2 linked regions of the Homo sapiens genome follow. The protein of the gene in region 2 purifies or fractionates together with the protein of the main gene of each other region. This does not show direct contact. Each region holds a gene or a part of one and is shown on either strand. Other genes may lie near its edges.

Region 1 (3,654 bases), on a different chromosome or scaffold from region 2:
ACCCAAGCTGGAGGGCAGTGGTGTAATCTTGGCTCACTGCAACCTCCACCTCCTGGGTTCAAACCGTTCTCCTGCCTCAGCCTCCCAAGTAGCTGGGAGTACAGGCACATGCCACCACGCCTGCCTAATTTTTTTGTATTTTTAGTAGAGATGGGGTTTCACCATGTTGGCCAAGCTGGTCTTGAACTCCTGACCTCAGATGATCCACCCACCTCAGCCTCAAAGTGCTGGGATTACAGGTGTGAGCCACTGCGCCCGGCCCTATTCCCTGCTTCTATACCTTTGCCCAGCTCTCCCTTCTGGCTGGAGGCCTATCTTATCCTTCAAGGTCTGGTTCAGTGGTTTTCAACTGGGGGTGATTTTTTTCTGAGGTGACATTTGGCAATGTCTGCAGACATTTTTACTTGTCACAACTAGGGGAGGAGGTTTGATGATGACGTCTAGTGGGTAAAAGCCAGGAATGCCGCTAAACATCCTACAGTGCGCAGGACAGCTTCCCACAGCAAAGAATTACCCAGCTATAAAGATCAATAGTCCCTATTGAGAAACCTTAGTGTAGTTGCAGCCTTTGCTCTTCAGGAGATTCTTTATAGTTCTTCCCCATCTGCCTCACTATTCCAGACTTCCAGGACACCCAGGCACCACACAGCAGTAGGCAGTAGAACATAGTGGGTAAGAGCATGGACTGACTGGGATTGAATCCTAATCCTAGCACACACTTACACTGAGACCTTGAGCAAATACTTAACTTCTCAGCACTATTCTTTTCTCAGCTGTAAAATTTGAATAATAGTAGTAACTGGCCCGTTGCAGTGGCTCACGCCTGTAATCCCAGCACTTTGGGAGGCAGAGGCGGGCAGATCACCTGAGGTCGGGAGTTCGAGACCAGCCTGACCAACATGGAGAAACCCAGTCTCTACTAAAAATACAAAATTAGCTGGGCGTGGTGGCACATGCCTATAATCCCAGCTACTAGGGAGACTGAGGCAGGAGAATCGCTTGAACCTGGGAGGCGGAGGTTGCAGTGAGCCGAGATCGTGCCATTGCACTCCAGCCTGGGCAACAAGAGTGAAACTCCATCTCAAAAAAAAAAAAAATAGTAGTAACCTACCTCCTAGGCTGTTATGAGGATTAAATGAATGAATATGGAAAAAGTGCTTAGAGAACAGTATGTGGTGCATACTAAGTGCTCAATAAGTGTTAGATATAACAATATTTTTATTATTATCAGCATCTAGCTCAGGGGTTCCAAAACTAGCCAGCCAGCTTGCAGATATCTTTGGCCAGCCCAGCGTTTTTTGTTTTATAATTGATTTATAGTTTATATACCACAGAAGTCATCATTTTATTTTATTATTATTATTTTTTTGAGACGGAGTCTCACTCTGTCGCCCAGGCTGGAGTGCAGTGGTACGATCTTGGCTCACTGCAGCCTCCGCCTCCCAGGTTCAAGTGATTCTTCTGCCTCAGCCTCCTGAGTAGCTAGGATTACAGGCACCTGCCACCACACCCGGCTAATTTTTTTTGTATTTTTAGTAGAGACTTCACCATGTTGGTCAGGCTGGTTTGAACTCCTGACCTCGTGAGCCACCTGTCTCAGCCTCCCAAAGTGCTGGGATTACTGATGTGAGCCACCGAGCCTGGCCAGAATTCATCATTTTAAAAGTTTACAGGCCAGGTGCAGTAGCTCAGGCCTGTAATCCCAGTACTTTGGGAGCCCAAGGTGGGCAGATTTCTTGAGCCCAGGAGATCGAGACCAGCCTGTACAACATGGTGAAATCCTGTCTCTGTAAAAAACACAAAAATTGTGGGGCACGGTGGCTCACGCCTGTAATCCCAGCACTTTGGGAGGCCAAGGCAGGTGGATCATGAGGTCAGGAGTTCGAGATCAGCCTGACCAACATGGTGAAACCCTGTCTCTACTGAAAAACTACAAAAAATTAGCCAGGCATGGTGGTGGGCGCCTGTAATCCCAGCTACTCAGGAGGCTGAGGCAGGAGAATCACTTGAACCTAGGAGTCAGAGGTTGCAGTGAGCCGAGATCGCGCCATTGCACGCCAGCCTGGGCAACAAGAGCAAAACTCCGTCTCAAAAAACAAAAAACAAAAAACAAAAAAAAAAACAAAAATTAGCTGAGTGTGGTGGTGCATCTGTAGTCCTAGCTTTTTGGGAGACTGAGGTGGGAGGACGGCTTAAGCCCAGGAGGTAGAGGTTGCAGTGAGCCAAGATCACGCTACTGCACTCCAGCCTGGGTGACAGAGCCAGACTCTGTCACAATAAATTAATAAAGTTTACAATTCATGGCTTTTAGTATATTCACAAGGTTGAACATTTTCATTACTCCAAAAAGACGCTCCATACCCATTAGCTGTCAATTCCCATTTCCCTCCAGCTCTCCTAGCCCCTGGCAACTACTAATCTACTTTCTGTCTCTATGGATTTGCCTATTTTGGACATTCCATATGAACAGAATCATACAATATGAGGTCCTTTTTGGCTAGCTTCTTTCTTTCTTTTCACTAAATAAAATGTTTCTGAGTCATATAGCTTCTTTCACTTAGTATAATGTTTTCAATGTTTGTGCATTGGAACTTCATTCCTTTTTGTTGACAAATAAATGTAAGGTCTCTATGTTAATTTCTTTTTTGCCTTTGTGCCATGGTTACGTAAAGTCTTAACCTTTGGAGAAACTGGGTGAAGACTACATATGGAAACTGTTCATACTATCTATATAAATCTGTAAATCTAACATTATAACAAATCACAAGTTTAAAAAGTACATAAATTTACAGTATATAGAGAAAAATAGAAATATGCATATTTTATCATGATACAAAACATTTGATTGCTGACCTGTTTGTTGATTTTTTTTGTTTTTTCTTTCCTTTTTTATCCTCTAAGCCTCTGATCACTTATCATTGTCAAGGTTGAGCAGACAGAGAAGTGCATACATTCTGCAGCTTGAGTGCCTAACTTGAGATTCTGTTTCTGACATTTACTGTGGATTTGGGGCAATTAAATTAACTTTCTGTGTCAAGTGGGAGGATCACCCAAGCCCAGGAGTTTGAGGCTGTAGTAAGCTATGATAGCAGACTGCACTCCAACCTAGGTGACAGAGTGAGATCCTGTCTGTTTTTTGTTTTGTTTTGTTTTGTTTTTTTGACAGAGTCTCACTCTGTCGCCCAAGCTGGAGTGCAGTGGCTCCATCTCAGATCACTGCAAGCTCCGCCTCCCGGGTTCACGCCATTCTCCTGCCTCAGCCTCCCGAGTAGCTGGGAATACAGGTGCCCGCCACCACGCCCGGCTAGTTTTTTATATTTTTAGTAGAGACGGGGTTTCACCGTGTTAACCAGGATGGTCTTGATCTCCTGACCTCATAATCCACACGCCTTGGCCTCCCAAAGTGCTGGGATTACAGGCGTGAGCCACCGCATCCGGCCAATGCAATTGTTTTCTTAATTCCATTTTCTGCATGTTCTTTGCTAGTGCATAGACATACAATTTTTTTTTTTTTTTTTGAGACGGAGTTTTACTCTTGTTGCCCAGGCTGGAGTGCAATGGTGCAATCTCGGCTCACAGCAACCTCCATCTCCCAGGTTCAAGCGATTCTCCTGTCTCAGCCTCCCAGGTAGCTGGGATTACAGGCGCCCACCA
Region 2 (3,654 bases):
CTGGGACTATAGGCACCCGCCAGCACGCCCGGCTAATTTTTTGTATTTTTTACTAGAGACGGGGTTTCACCGTGTTAGCCAGGTCTCAATCTCCTGACCTCGTGATCTGCCCGCCTCGGCCTCCCAAAGTGCTGGGATTACAGGCGTGAGCCACCACGCCCAGCCAATAGCTTTAAGAAACTTTAAGAAGTGGTGCAATGGAAAATACTAATGATTTAGATTCAAAATTATTGAAATCAAGTTCTGTCAATTCTTGGTAAAGACACTTAACATCTTGGGAAATTAGTTTTCTTAAATGTAAAAATGAAGATAATAATATTTACCCATTCAAGATTTATTTGAGGACTAAATGAGATAATATCAGTGGATGTTTATTGTAAATAATCATCTACTCAGCTATTTTCTGTGACCCCACTAAATACAGAGATCTATACAGAATTACAGTGTCTGTTCTTGAATTGGTCGTTGAAAGCCTTGATACTCAACAGGTGCTTCACAGACTAGTTGCATGAGCTACTGGAGCCTGCTGTAGGCCTGCTAAGTCTGGAGTTTTATAAAATTCCCAGGAGATTCAAGCACACATCACCATTTAGATGCACTTCTCTAAGGTTCAATCACTGCTGGGCCTTGTGATATGAGTGAGTTCTACAAAATATCAAAGGAGTGGAAAACACAGACTATTTTCATGTGGTTTTTAAAATAATTGTTATAGCTCTAGGATTCTCAGAAGCATGATCAAAGAACCAGCAGAACAACCTATGAGGTTATCAGTATAAAATTCCCTTCTTTGTGTTTACTTTGTTTTTACTTGGTACAAAAGTGTTGTGCCACCATACGAAGACTCCAGGCAGATGATGTTTCCCTACAGCATGTATCATAGCCATGTCAGAGAAAGGATATGTCGCTGGGAATGGGGCTCTTTTGTTTAGGTAGACCCTAGCGTATTATGCATGCCAGGAAGAAACTTTATCGAAATAGGTAATCTAACCTCAGAGTCCCTAAAACTTTTAAAAATATTGCTGTGATCTTGTTCTTGAATGTCCCCTCACTGTAGTTCCCACAAAGCTCACAATTCTCAGCACTCTCTGATTCCTAGCCTGTGTGAGGTCAATTAAATGAAACATTTTTGACATACAAGCTTTTAAAGCAGAAGCCCACTATAGACACAGTGGTCAGGGTAAGCGCTTCCACTTTCCTTCCCCACCCGCCCTCTGCTCCTAGAGATGGAGGCGTCCCACAGCCACAGTGATGTCACAAGGTTGTATGTCCCTTTGATGCGAAATCAGTAGCTACACTGGAACTCAGCTCCTCTCAGTTCCACTTGACTTGGTGGTCTGGTACCAGAGTCACTAGCCATGAGTGCCTCTTGAGGCATGCAAAAAAAAAACTTCTCTCCTCTCCTCCTGCCATCACTGCAGTCTGGGGACATTTCTGTCAATGTCAGAAACAGGATGTAGCTTCCTCTGTGTCAGGTCTTAAATCTTCTGCCCCTGTGCTTCTGAAATGCCTTGAGCAGGGCTTGTGGACATAACCCTGACACATTCCCTTAGTGAACCATTCACTAGGCACTGTATGTCATTGTCTGGTGAATGTTTCACTAACCCTACCCAGTTGATTACATATTAAGGGGAAAAAATTATTAGTGATTCCAATTACTAAAAAAAGAACAATATGGGTCATCACGTTAAAATGAGTCACTTGAGCATTTGTTAAGATTTGTTTTTTATTTTAGCTCGTAATATGTTACCGGTTACTGTCATTAATCCATCATAATATTCTTTTTAAACTAATTCTATTAAATCATTACTTTTCTTTTGACTCTGATCATAGAACCCAAAGCATGAAATTCAGAAGCTGGCAGAATTTATTGGGAAGAAATTAGATGACAAAGTTCTAGATAAAATTGTCCATTACACTTCGTTTGATGTCATGAAACAGAATCCAATGGCAAACTATTCATCGATTCCTGCTGAAATCATGGACCACTCCATTTCTCCATTCATGAGAAAAGGTTTTTATAGTTTATTTTCATTATAATCTTAAAAGAACTGTCAAATATTTTAAAGCATTTGAGGAGTTTTCTTTCCTGTGTCTAGGAAAAATAATATCTGTAATAAATGATTTGGGGAAAAGAAGTATTTAAGAAGCCACTGATAAAATGAAAATCGCGTTTAATTAGCCAATTATTATTAAGATTAAGAGAGTAAGATTTGATGTCCAAATCCAACCACTTATCCCCACTTTCCCTTAAGAGTTCTGGCTAATAACATGAAAATATATAGAATTAAGTCAGATAGGGCAAAGAATCCATTTTATAGACAGTTCTATGCTATCAGATTCAGTCATTCAAAGGTACTTACTGAGGGGCTTCTATGTGCCAGGCACTGTTCTAGCCACTGTTTGCAGCAGTGAACAAAACACAAAAATTCATGCCTGCGTGGAAATTATATTCTAGTGATAAGCAAAATAAAGAATATATAGATAGATAACATTAAGAAAAACGAAACTGGGAAAGGTAACAGGGATTACAATTAGAGAATTTGTGGGGGGAGGTCTTATTTTTTCTTCTTCAAATGGTACCTTGGGCCTCCCAGAAATAGGCCCTTCTTGGTCAGTTTACAGCATGGGAGCTACAGTCATGAGCACCCACCATGCTTCAATGTGCAACAGGGCACAGGGAAAGACAAGAAAGCCCTTCAGGCCTGCTATTGTAACATGGCGGTCTCGCCCACCCACTAATGCAACCAGGTGGCAAGAGACTCTCCTTGTCTCACAGATCAGACAAGAAAGTTGTCTTCTCTTCAGGATAAGGAAGTGACAGGATAGCAAGAGAAACGTTTTGTCCAATACTGCCCTTCCTAGAACATGGCATAGAAATCATCATACAGAAACAGGAGAATAGGGAAGCACAGACTCTTCCAACAGCTACTGAACCTCTCCCACATAACTGTATTTCAGGGGCAGTGGGAGACTGGAAGAAACACTTCACCGTGGCTCAGAATGAGAGATTTGATGAAGATTACAAGAAGAAAATGACTGATACCAGACTAACTTTCCACTTCCAGTTCTAGTAAGGAAGAAAAACTGAAAATGTTTTAGTTTATTACCCAGTATATTTGGGTAATAATGAAAGTTTAATTCTCATAACAAATGATATCAGATTCCAGTTATCAGAATAGTTTACTGTGTTTGCTCTTATTCACTCTACTAAAAAATTATTTTAAAAGGCTGGAGGCAAGGTGGTGACAGGCAGCAGGGTGGCGACATGGAGAGAGGGAAGCTCAATAAATCACTAGGTACAATCCTGGTATCATTGCCAATTATCATCATATTTACATTTTCTACAATCATGTGCTTATTAACATATTGGAAATGCTTCAGTCCTCACATGATAATACACTAACATTTTCAGATTAAGTTTTGGTTCAAGTTAATTTTTTTTTTTTTTTTTTTGAGACGGAGTCTCGCTCTGTCGCCCAGGCTGGAGTGCAGTGGCACGATCTCGGCTCACTGCAAGCTCTGCTTCCTGGGTTCACGCTATTCCCCTGCCTCAGCCTCCCGAGTAGCTGGGACTATGGGCGCCCACCACCACTCCCGGCTAATTTTTTTTTTTGTATTCTTAGTAGAGACGAGGTTTCACCGTGTTAGCCAGGA

The links. The genes of interacting proteins can lie anywhere in the genome.
Region 1: the proteins of SULT1C4 (region 2) and RPAP1 purify together in Homo sapiens (affinity purification with mass spectrometry; one large-scale study listed by BioGRID and IntAct). This does not show direct contact.

Annotation. Positions count from the first base shown.
Region 1 is NC_000015.10:41,537,748-41,541,401, reverse strand, and holds part of RPAP1 (RNA polymerase II-associated protein 1), read left to right. Parts: intron 1-3,654. UniProt on the Homo sapiens protein: Forms an interface between the RNA polymerase II enzyme and chaperone/scaffolding protein, suggesting that it is required to connect RNA polymerase II to regulators of protein complex formation.
Region 2 is NC_000002.12:108,384,362-108,388,015, forward strand, and holds part of SULT1C4 (sulfotransferase 1C4), read left to right. Parts: intron 1-1,830; coding exon 1,831-2,011; intron 2,012-2,958; coding exon 2,959-3,071; 3' UTR 3,072-3,654. UniProt on the Homo sapiens protein: Sulfotransferase that utilizes 3'-phospho-5'-adenylyl sulfate (PAPS) as sulfonate donor to catalyze the sulfate conjugation of phenolic compounds.